Linked DNA regions of Homo sapiens: region 2 is linked to region 1. The links come from fine-mapping of genetic effects on plasma protein levels. A gene starts in region 1. The other region holds a variant in brackets. All regions are shown on one strand. Distances are from middle to middle.

The links. PIP is the chance, under the fine-mapping model, that this variant and not a neighbour inherited with it causes the effect. The UK Biobank Pharma Proteomics Project read protein levels with antibody pairs (Olink). The fine-mapping took linkage between variants from a reference panel, not from the people measured, so its PIPs are less certain.
Region 2: its variant is fine-mapped to the plasma level of the CTSS protein (UK Biobank, PIP 0.97).

What each region holds. Positions count from the first base shown.
Region 1 is chr1:150,763,241-150,768,629 of GRCh38, forward strand. It overlaps CTSS (cathepsin S), which reads right to left and starts at 2,538. Exons shown (of 8, transcript NM_004079.5): 1 at 2,458-2,538; 2 at 1,398-1,524. The coding sequence starts at 1,523. RefSeq lists enhancers at 628-717, 1,429-1,478, 2,409-2,553, 2,412-2,556 and cis regulatory regions at 2,481, 2,484.
Region 2 is chr1:150,713,273-150,718,661 of GRCh38, forward strand. HORMAD1 (HORMA domain containing 1) reads right to left here. Exons shown (of 15, transcript NM_032132.5): 3 at 3,866-4,010; 4 at 1,343-1,406; 5 at 813-849. Among named protein-coding and RNA genes, the nearest start is that of HORMAD1, 4.9 kb to the right of the region's middle. The variant AAT/A (reference allele first, on the strand shown) is at 2,618.

The DNA of each region.
Region 1 (5,389 bases):
AACTCATAAAAGTAGAGAGTAGAATGGTGGTTAGCAGAGGCTGGGCGGAGGGTAGACAGGGAAAGGGGAGATGTTAGGCAAAGAGTACAGAGTTTCATTTGACAAGAAGACTACATTCTAGCAATCTATTGCATAGCATGGTGACTACAGATAATAATAATAATGTATTTTATATGTCAAAATTACTGAAAGGGTAGATTTTAAATGTTCTTATCACAATGAAAGGATAAGTATGTGAGGTGCTGAATAGGTTAATTAGCCTAATTTAATCATTCTGCAATGTATATTTGTATCATAACATCACATTGTACTCCATAAATAGACACAATTATTATTTAATTATAAATAAATAAAAATAAAACTTAGAGTGTATGACCTAAGAGTGTCATTTTTATACAAAATAATATGTCAAATAAATAAATATATGATGCTAGCTTACAAACAGAAATATTACATAGTTACAGGACTTAGTTATTTAAAGCAGTAGGGTTAAGGTCTTAACATCAGCAAGTGTGCTTTGAAATAAAAACAAAAGTACAAAATGGGAAGTGATAGTCAAGAAACAATATCTGGCCACACTATGTGGGTATTAACGCCTTTTCGCTCCTCAGCCATCCCAAATGTGGCCCTTCCTCAGGAGCTTGTGCTGATTTGCCCTTGGCCTGAGACCTTCACTCTATTATGTATTTTGCTTGCTCCCTGGCTTCCATCAATTCTCTGCTCAAATGGCACCCTTATCCGTGAGGCCTTCCCTAACCCTCCTGTCATATAGATAGACTTCTTACCACCACCACCACCCAGGGCCCTTCCTACTCTCCATGCCTTCTGTTATTTTTATCTACAACACTTATCACCATCTAGCATACTACATATCTGCTTGTTTATTTTCTTATTTCCTGTCTCTCTCACTATAATATAAGCTCCATAACAGGAATTTTGTTTTGATTCCTGCTGTATGGTACCAAGAACAGTATCTGGCAAGAAACAAGTACATAATATTTATTTATTTATTTTTGAGATGGAGTCTCACTCTGTCACCCAGGCTGGAATGCAATGGCACAATCTTGGCTCACTGCAACCTCCGCCTTCCCGGCTCAAGTGATTCTCTTGCCTCAGCCTCCCGAGTAGCTGGGATTACAGGCGCCCACCACCACATCCAGCTAATTTTTGTATTTTTAGTAGAGATGGGGTTTCGCCATGTTGGCTAGGCTGGTCTCGAACTCCTGACCTCAGGTGATCCGCTCACCTTGGCCTTCCAAAGGGCTAGGATTACAGGCGCGAGCCACCACACCCAGCTTAAATATTTACTGAAAACACTGCCTGTAAGAACACAATTTTAAGAGGTAGAAAACAGTACTCCTTTAAAAGCATATCGCTCGAGTGGCAATCCAATCTACCTTTTCCTTGTATTGTTTGCCATAGGTTTTCTTCCAGAGATGCCAGTGGTGATCCAGGGTAGGATCTTTATGCAACTGTGCCACTGCAGAGGAGCACACCAAGAGCACACAAACCAGCCGTTTCATTCTGTGTAAGGAAAGGTAACATAGGAAGTGTTGCTATTAGCTGCATATGTTGTGACCACATGTTTTCATAAGAGAAAATAACAATGCAAAGTCTATCAAAGGGACAGACTATTATAAACAGAATTATACAGGAAAATTCCTGGGATATATAGTCACAGGGAACAGCTGCAGATTTATGTCAGAAATACTACTTCCAATGCTTAGTAGCACTTTAAAAAGTGATTTCCAGGAATTTCCCAATATCTGGTAAACCAAACACATCTAGAGGGTTAGAAAACAGGGACTTTCCAGGATTTGCCAACAAATCTAATCAAAGGAAATCTCTTTCTCTCTCTCTCAAAAAAAAAAAAAAATCATCCTTAAGAGAGACAAACCTCTGAAAAATCAGTTTATCTCCTGAATTTTTGAATACATGGGCTCTTCTTAACTGACCTGTTTAAATATCCACAGTCTTTACAGATAGTTAAAAGACAATTCTCATCTATTGCTTTCACATCTTTAGGTAGGTAATTTTCCTTTTTACGTTTTTTTTTTTTTAATGATCAGACATCTGTTTCAAATGAGGCAATTAACTACTCTTTAAAATGCCACTTCTGTATTTAATTCAAGAGACATCAACAGAAATTCAGCGACTAGCTCCCTCAAACTGGATTCTACTTTCTTTTCCATTTCTTTTTAATTGAAAACATCTGGAATTTTAAACATGTAAGCCTTTAAATTATATTCCAAAGAAAGCCATGTTTCAGTCTCAACTTAGATGCTTAGATGCTCAAGCAGACATTAACTTTTTAAAAATAGAGAAGAGGCAAATTGAACGACACGATTTTTTAGTTTACTTCCTGAAACCAAAGATTTAAAACCTAGCAGGCAGAACAAGTTACAAACACAGAGTGTTTGAAGACCAAATGGGAGAAAAAGAACAAAGAGTACATACGTGATAGAACCAGCAGTTGCTCCCACAGTAAGAGTCCTTGAATTAGTGGGCTCTCTTCTAAGATTTCAAAGCAACAAGGAGATTTCAGTTCAATTGACTTGAAAAGAAATTGGAACTTGTCACATGAGGTACTCAAAATGAGGAAGTGAACTTTCATTTCAGTTTCATTTAAAATCTAGCTAGTACAGTCACCTCTAGTCATTTCCCTATGGTCTTGGGGACAAAGTGGATACAGTAAGCCATCAAGAAGAGCCCTTGTCTGAGCCCAGTGGCTCATGCCTATAATCCCAGCACTTTGGGAGGCTGAGGCGGGAGGATCACTTGAGGCCAGGAGTTCAAGACCAGCCTAGGCAATATAGTGAGACCCTGTCTCTGCAAAAAAATTTTTTTTAATTAGCTGGGCATGGTGGTGCATGCTTGTAGTCCCAGCTGAGGGGGAGGGTGAGGTGGGAGAATTGCTTGAGTCTAGGAGGACAAGGCTGCAGTGAGCCATGATTATGCCACTGTGTTTCAGCCTGGATGACATATCAAGACCCTATCTCAAAAAAAAAATTAAATTGAATTTTAAAAACACCAACTTTTACATGGAAAACATTTAGTTATAAAGAGATTTAGATAAAGCTCCCCAAATCCCAGCTCCTTGTATGATTTCCTAGGAAAACCTGTCTTACTGCTTTTAACACAACTCATTCATGATCTGATATTGTCTGGTTCTCACTCAGCCATTCCTTCGTTCATCAAACTCAAAATGTCTTTATTAATATATACTATATGTATAGTTTAGTAATATGCGTGTGTGTGTGTGTGTGTGTGTGTATGTGTTAGTATATTCATGGAAAAAAGGATACACTCAAATATATCCAATTGAGAATGATTACCTGGGTGGGGTGGGAGCAAGACGAACTATCATCTTTTAAATTTGCATTTTCCTAATTACTAATGAGGTTGAGGATCTTTTCACACATTTATTGACCGTTTGAATTTTCTGTGAATTTCCTGTTCATCTTTTTTGCTCATTTTTCTATTGTATTGTTGCATTTTCTTAGTGATTTGTGGGAGGTGTGTGTGTGTGTGTGTGTTGTGTGTTTTCCGAGACGGAGTCGTGCTTTGTCTCCCATGCTGGAGTGCATTGGTGCGATCTTGGCTCACTGCAACATCCACCTCCCAGGTTCAAGCGATTCTCTGCCTCAGACTCCCAAGTAGCTGGGATTACAGGCACCTGCCAGCATGTCCAGCTAATTTTTGTATTTTTAGTAGAGACAGGGTTTCACCATCTTGGCCAGGCTGGTCTTGAACTCTTCACCTCGTGATCCACCCGCCTCAGCCTCCCAAAGTGCTGGGATTACAGGTGTGAGCCACCGTGCCCGGCCAAGGTGTATGTGTTTTAAAAATATATTCTGGCTTCTAATCTTTGACAGTTATATACCCTTAAAAACATCCTCCCTTAGTCTTCCACTTGTCTTTTATTTTATTTTTTCTTCCTTTGCATAAGCCTATGAAATTCCACTTGTCCTTTAGTCTTGTTTATAGTGAGTTTTTCTATATGAAATTTTTTTATGTTGAGGTAGAACATTTTATTCAGCTTTTCCGTATAATCAATCTATACTGTTTTTGTATAAGAAAATTTTCCTCATCCAAATGTAATAAAGATACACTCATCTTATTTTTATACTTTCAGAGAGTGTTTTATTTATCTTTTCTATGGCTACTGCTTTTAGGTGTTTAATTCACCTGGAATTTAGTTTTGTGTATGGTATGACGTAGGGAGCTTATTTTCTTTGTTTTCCAATTTTGATTCTACCTCTATTGTACACCAAATTCTCATACATAGATAGGTCAGTTTCTGAGCTCATGAAGCTGTTCTTTTTATCTTTTGCTACTTCAGTATCACACAGTTTTAATTAAAACAGCTTTGTAATATGTCTCCACGTATGGTAAGGCAAGTCATCTAGGCCACCCTATCTTTGTTCTTCTTTTTAAACATTGTCTTTGTATTTTGTACTTGTTAACTCTTCTTTATATGAATTTTTTGAATCAGTTTATCAAGTTCCCTGAAAAACTCTGTTGGAGTTTTTTGCTTTTTTCTTTTGGAGACAGGGTTTCATTCTGTCACCCAGGCTGGAGTGCAGTGATGCAATCATGGCTCACTGCAGCCTTGACCTCCTGGGCTCAAGTGATCCTCCCGCCTCAGCCTCTGGAGTGGCTGGGACTACAGGTGCACACCACCATGCCTGGCTGATTTTGTTTTTTGTTTTTTGTAGATAAGGGGTTTCACCATGTTGCCCAGGCTGGCCTCAAACTCCTGGGCTCAAGCAATCTGCCCACCTTGGCCTCCTGAAGTGCTGGGATTACAGGCATGAGCCCCCACATCTGGCTATTAGAGTTTTTATTTGAATATATGCATAAATTTAGGGAGAAGTAACATCATTATAATGTTGATTCATCTCAGCTGTAGTAGACATGTTTGTGTTTGTAGCCATACAGTTTTTTTTAAAAAGATACTGCTTATGGAAAATTTAAAACACATGTAAAAGTAAAAATAGTAGTAAAATGAGCTGCCGTGAAACCATTGTCTTGTTTCAACAATGATCAGTACATGGCCAATCTTATTTTATTTATATTCCCACTCTCACTACCTGAATTATATTAAATAAATTCTAGACATTCTGTCATTTCATACGTAAATGTCCCTGTGTGTGTCTTTAAAAGACAGAGACTATTAAACAAATATAATACCACAATACCATCATCACATCTAAAATAAATGAACAATAATTTTCTTTTTTTTTTTTTTCTGAGACAGAGTCTCACTCACTTGCCCAGGCTGGAGTGCAGTGGTGTGATCCCAGCTCACTGCAATCTCTGCCTGCCGAGTTCAAGCGATTCTCCTGCCTCAGCCTCCCAAGTGGCTGGGATTACAGGCATGTGCCAT
Region 2 (5,389 bases), 50 kb before region 1:
TGTTTTCCTACTTTACAAGGGACCTTTTTTGTTTTGTTGATCACTGTTAGCTTACCCAGTTCCTACCTAGAAGAGATGCCTAACACATAACGGGCGCTCAATATTTACTACGCCTTAATGGGGAAGATTAGGAACCATGAATAAAAATTAATCTTCTTGAGGCTGAGGCAGGAGAATGGCGTGAACCTGGGAGGCGGAGCTTGCAGTAAGCCGAGATGGTGCCACTGCATTCCAGCCTGAGCGACAGAGCAAGACTCCATCTCAAAAAAAAAAAAATTTCATCTTCTTCACAATTAGCCTAGTGCTGGACTTCATTATGCAAGTTGGTACTAAATTATACTAAGTATGCAAAAAGGATTACAATACATCTTAAAACCTTCTTAATTTTGCTAATTCAGAATTTGTGACAATTTAACCTAGATTATGTGGAAATTTATTTTTGAACCCTAATAAGGAAATAATTTATTAAATTATTAGTATAAACAAGCTTGTAGAAGGCATGTGAAACTAATGAATAAACTATTTGAAAAGACTCTTTAATTCATTAACTTTTTTGTAAGTTAACACGTGTTATTAATACAAATAAGTGTTAAAAAAACTAGCTTGGAAAAATTTGTTTAGTGTTAATTCCATTATCTTTAAATGAGTTGATGATTAGTCTTTAAAATATTCAAATGTTTAGGCTTTTCAGTAATTCAGACTGACCTACACTCAAGTTAGTTCAAATGAATGTTTTACTACATCATAACTCCAGTTATATTTGTAGATCATAAACTGTAGAAAAAAAAGGATAAAGAGATTGCAAGACTTACATATTTTTTCTGTAAAGCATCATAACATCCTAGCATCCTAAAAAAAAAATCAAGGATTCATTTTTAGACTGAATGCATTTCCAGAAAATAGTTATTTTCATAAATTTCCATATTATCTCATTACTAAATAATACAAAAATGTCTTATTAAAGCTCCCTTCTTATTAACTAGCTTAAAACAAGACAAAACATAAAAAACAATGTGGCAGAAATGTAAAATGATGATAGAGATGGAAGGGAAAATACAAAATATCTGACAGCTATTTGTGGGGAACAATAATAAAATAAATAAAGCCTGCTTGCATGGGGCACAAAATAAAGAAACATTTATTTTTAAAATTTATTTTTCCAAATACCCAGACTTCAAGGAGAGGAAAACTTCGGTGGAAAATTTAATGACCTACAAAAATGCTATCTAGCATTAAAGGGTGATTCACTAAAATTTGGTTAAACACCAAAGGTATCCAAGGTACAAAAAAAAGTAAAATGAGAAAAAAATAATTTTCTCTCTTTAGGTATTCTTTTACTTGCCATTTCACTAACTGTGTAGATCCTGGGCAATTTTTATCTTCTCTCAGTATTTTGACACAAAGATCTAAACACAAAAATGATGAAATATAGAGTTACTTAAGAAAAGTAAACAACTAGAAATTTTAAATGAAGTTTATTTTCTTCTGCTGTGTATTACAGGTAAATTATTATTATAATTATTATTATTTTGAGACAGGGTCTCACTCTATCACCCAGGATGGAGTGCGGTGACATGATCTCGGCTCACTGGAACTTCTGCCTTCCGAGTTCAAGCCATTCTCCCACCTCAGCCTCCCCAGTAGCTGGGACTTCAGGTGCGCCACCATGACCGGCTAATTTTTGTATTTTTTGGTAGAGACAGGGTTTCCTCATGTTGGGCAGACTAGTCTCGAACTCCTGACCTCAGGTGACCCGCCTGCCTCAACCTCCCAAAGTGCTGGGATTACAGGCGTGAGCCACCTTGCCCAGCACAGGTAAATTATTAATAGCAATAATTAATATTATTAATGTAATTAAAGGAAGAAAGGTTATATGAAAGTAGTATTTTAATATTTATTATAAGATGCCATCATAATAATTAGGATGCAAGCTGATGGGTACAAAAATATTTCATAAAAAACTTATAGAATCCATGAAATTAGATATGTTGCTTTCATGCCATTGTTATACAAGAATCTTAGAATCTTATCCCAGTAAAATACTTGTAAAGGCCAAGAACTTAACGGGCTATCAAAAACAAAGAGGCCTGCAAAGAAGCAACATGTAACACAGTGGAAAAGACTGAGAGTCTCTCATATCCTCAGGTACCTTAATTGAAAAACAGGTATTTGTAAGACTGCTACATGAATTAACAAGATATCGTATATAACATAGTGCTTAACATATTGCCCAGCACATAACTGGTGTACAATATTATGCATGTATAATGTACTGAGAAATAAGTTATTATTGTAGTATAAACTGGCTGTATTATTATTATTATTTTAATTTAAAAAATAGAGATGGAGTCTCCTTATGTTGACCAGGCTGGTCTTGAATTCCTGGCCTCAAGTGATCCTCCTGCCTCAGCCTCCCAAAGTGCTGGGATTACAGACGTGAGCTTCCACGCCTGGCCCTGGCTGTATTATTTTTACTTCCTTAAAATAGCACAAGAACATACACTACTACTGTATGTTTTCTATTGATTTCTTTCATCATTATAAGCATAATTTCAGGTAAAATTATACTTGAGAAACTGAGGAAAAATTTTATGATTAAGTGCTTCTAAAGGTATTG[AAT/A]ATATATATATATGTATATATTTTAAAACCATTTAGTTATCCAAACAAAAACAAAAACTTGTACATCAGTGCGGCATTATTCATAATAGCCAAAAAGAGAACCCAAATGTTCATCAACTAATAAAGGGATAAATAAAATGTGGTACAGCCATGCAATAGAACATTATTCAGCAACAAAAAGGGATGAAGCACTGATCCATGCTACAATACGGAGGAACCTTGAAAACATGCTAAGTGAAAGCCAGTCACAAAGGACCACTTTTTTTTTTTTTTTTTTTTTTTTTTTTTTTGAGACTGAGTCTTGCTCTGTTGCCAGGCTGGAGTGCAGTGGCACAATCTCGGCTCACTGCAACCTCCGCCTCCCGGGTTCAAGCGATTCTCCTGCTCAGCCTCCCAAGTAGCTGGGACTACAGGCATGCACCACCATGCCCGGCTAATTTTTGTATTTTTAGTAGAGACGGGGTTTCACCATGTTGGCCAGGATGGTCTCCATCTCTTGACTTTGTGATCCGCCCGCCTCGGCCTCCCAAAGTGCTGGGATTACAGGCGTGAGCCACTGCACCCGGCCAGGACCACATTTTATATTATTTCATTTATATGAAATGTCCAGAGTAAGTAAATCTGTACAGACAGAAAGTAGATTGGTGATTGCCTAGGACTGGGAAGGTTGAGGGGAAGTGCACAGTGCCTTAAGGGGTATGGAGTTTCTTCTTGGGATGAAGAAATGTTCTAAAATTGACTGTGGTGATGGTTGTACAAATCTGTTAATTTATTAAAAATCATTGAAATGGGCCGGGCGCGGTGGCTCACGCCTGTAATCACACCACTTTGGGAGGCCGAGGCGGGCAGATCACAAGGTGAGGAAATCGAGACCATCCTGGCTAACACGGTGAAACCCCGTCTCTACTAAAAATACAAAAAATTAGCCGGGCGTGGTGGCGGGCGCCTGTAGTCCCAGCTACTCGTGAGGCTGAAGCAGGAGAATGGCGTGAACCCAGGAGGTGGAGCTTGCAGTGAGCGGAGATGGCACCACTGCACTCCAGCCCGGGCGAGACCCCGTCTCAAAAAAAAAAAAAAAAAAAATCATTGAAATGTACACTTTAAACAAGTGAACTGTCAGGTACGTGAATTGTATTAATAAAGCTTCTATTAAAATAAAATTTCTAAGTCAAAAATTATAGTTTTGGAGCAAGCAAAAATAAAAATACCATTTTAAAAGAAAGCTTTAAAATAAATATTGTATTACCATCTAGATATCTTGTTCCATAAGCGCATTCTGGGAATATTCCCCTCAAATACGTGATACAGGATACTGAAACTGCTAGAAGCCTCTTCACTAACACCAAAGACTGGTGTTCAGTTGATATCTTATTGGGAAATACCAGTGCACTCTAAAATTCAAGGGAAAGTAGAACACTTTATTTAAATTTATTAAAAATAAAGTTTCTCTTGACTTAACATATATCCAATTTTGTATAATCATAGTACTCACCCCAAGAATTCCTCCCTATATTGGTTAGTAATCCCCCAAAAGTCAGAGCGGCATGTAAAATGTGAGGGTATTTCTAGGGTAATAGCCTAAAGGACATATGCAAAAAGTATCTAAAAATCTTTTAATTTTTTTTTTTTATTTTTAAAAAAATTGAGACAGGATCTCACTGTATTGCCCAGGCTGGAGTGCAGTGGCACAATCACAGCTGCCTACAACCTCCATTGGATGCAAGTTGATGGGCACAAAGTATTTCATTAAAAAAGTATAGGCCGGGTGCAGTGGCTCACGCCTGTAATCCCAGCACTTTGGGAGGCTGAGGCGGGTGGATCACAAGGTCAGGAGTTCAAGACCAGCCTGGCCAAATGGTGAAACCCTGTCTCTACTAAAAATACAAAAATTAGCTGGGCGTGGTGGCAGGCACCTGTAAACCCAGCTACTCTTGTAATCCCAGCACTTGGGAGGCTGAGGCAGGGAATTGCTTGAGCCCAGGAGGCAGAGGTTGCTGTGAGCCAAGATCGCACCACTGCACTCCAGCCTGAGTGACAAAGCGAGACTCCATCTCAAAAAAAAAGTATATAATCATTATATAATTCTTCAGATTATATTCAAATATATCAAATGCTTGTATTTTGAGGATGAATAAAACAAATGTTAATAGTGGCTGGTATTTTAAAAACACCTTTTTGGGACACCCATATAAAGTGTTTTTCAGTTTAATGGTTTTTAGTTTATTCACAGAGGTGTGTGTGCAACAATCACCACCAATTTCATAACATTTTCTTCATCCCAAAAAGGAAACCCATACCAATTAGCAATCACTCCCTGTCCCTTATCCCATCCCACGTCCTACCCATTAGCCTATCTGTCCCTATAAATTTGCCTATTCTAGACATTTCATATATCCTCGCACAACCTCTAAAGTAGCTGAGACTACAGGCGTTGCACCACCATGCCTGGCTAATTTTTTTTTTTTTTTTTTTTGTAGAGATGAGATCTCACTATGTTACCCAGGCTGACCTCAAACTCTTGCGCTCAAGCAATCCTCTCACCTCAGCCTCAGCTCAAAAAGTACCTAAAAATCTTAAGAATCCCCTTGCAGATTAACTGTCTGTAAATGCATAACACATGGATAGATTACATTGATTTTTCTCTTTGGTCACTGAGTAGGTATAACAGAGGTTAAGTGTAATGCAAAATCCTATACAAATATAGCAAATGCATATTTGTGTCTCGGTTACAAACATTCATTTTCTTTCTTTTTGAGACGGAGTCTCACTG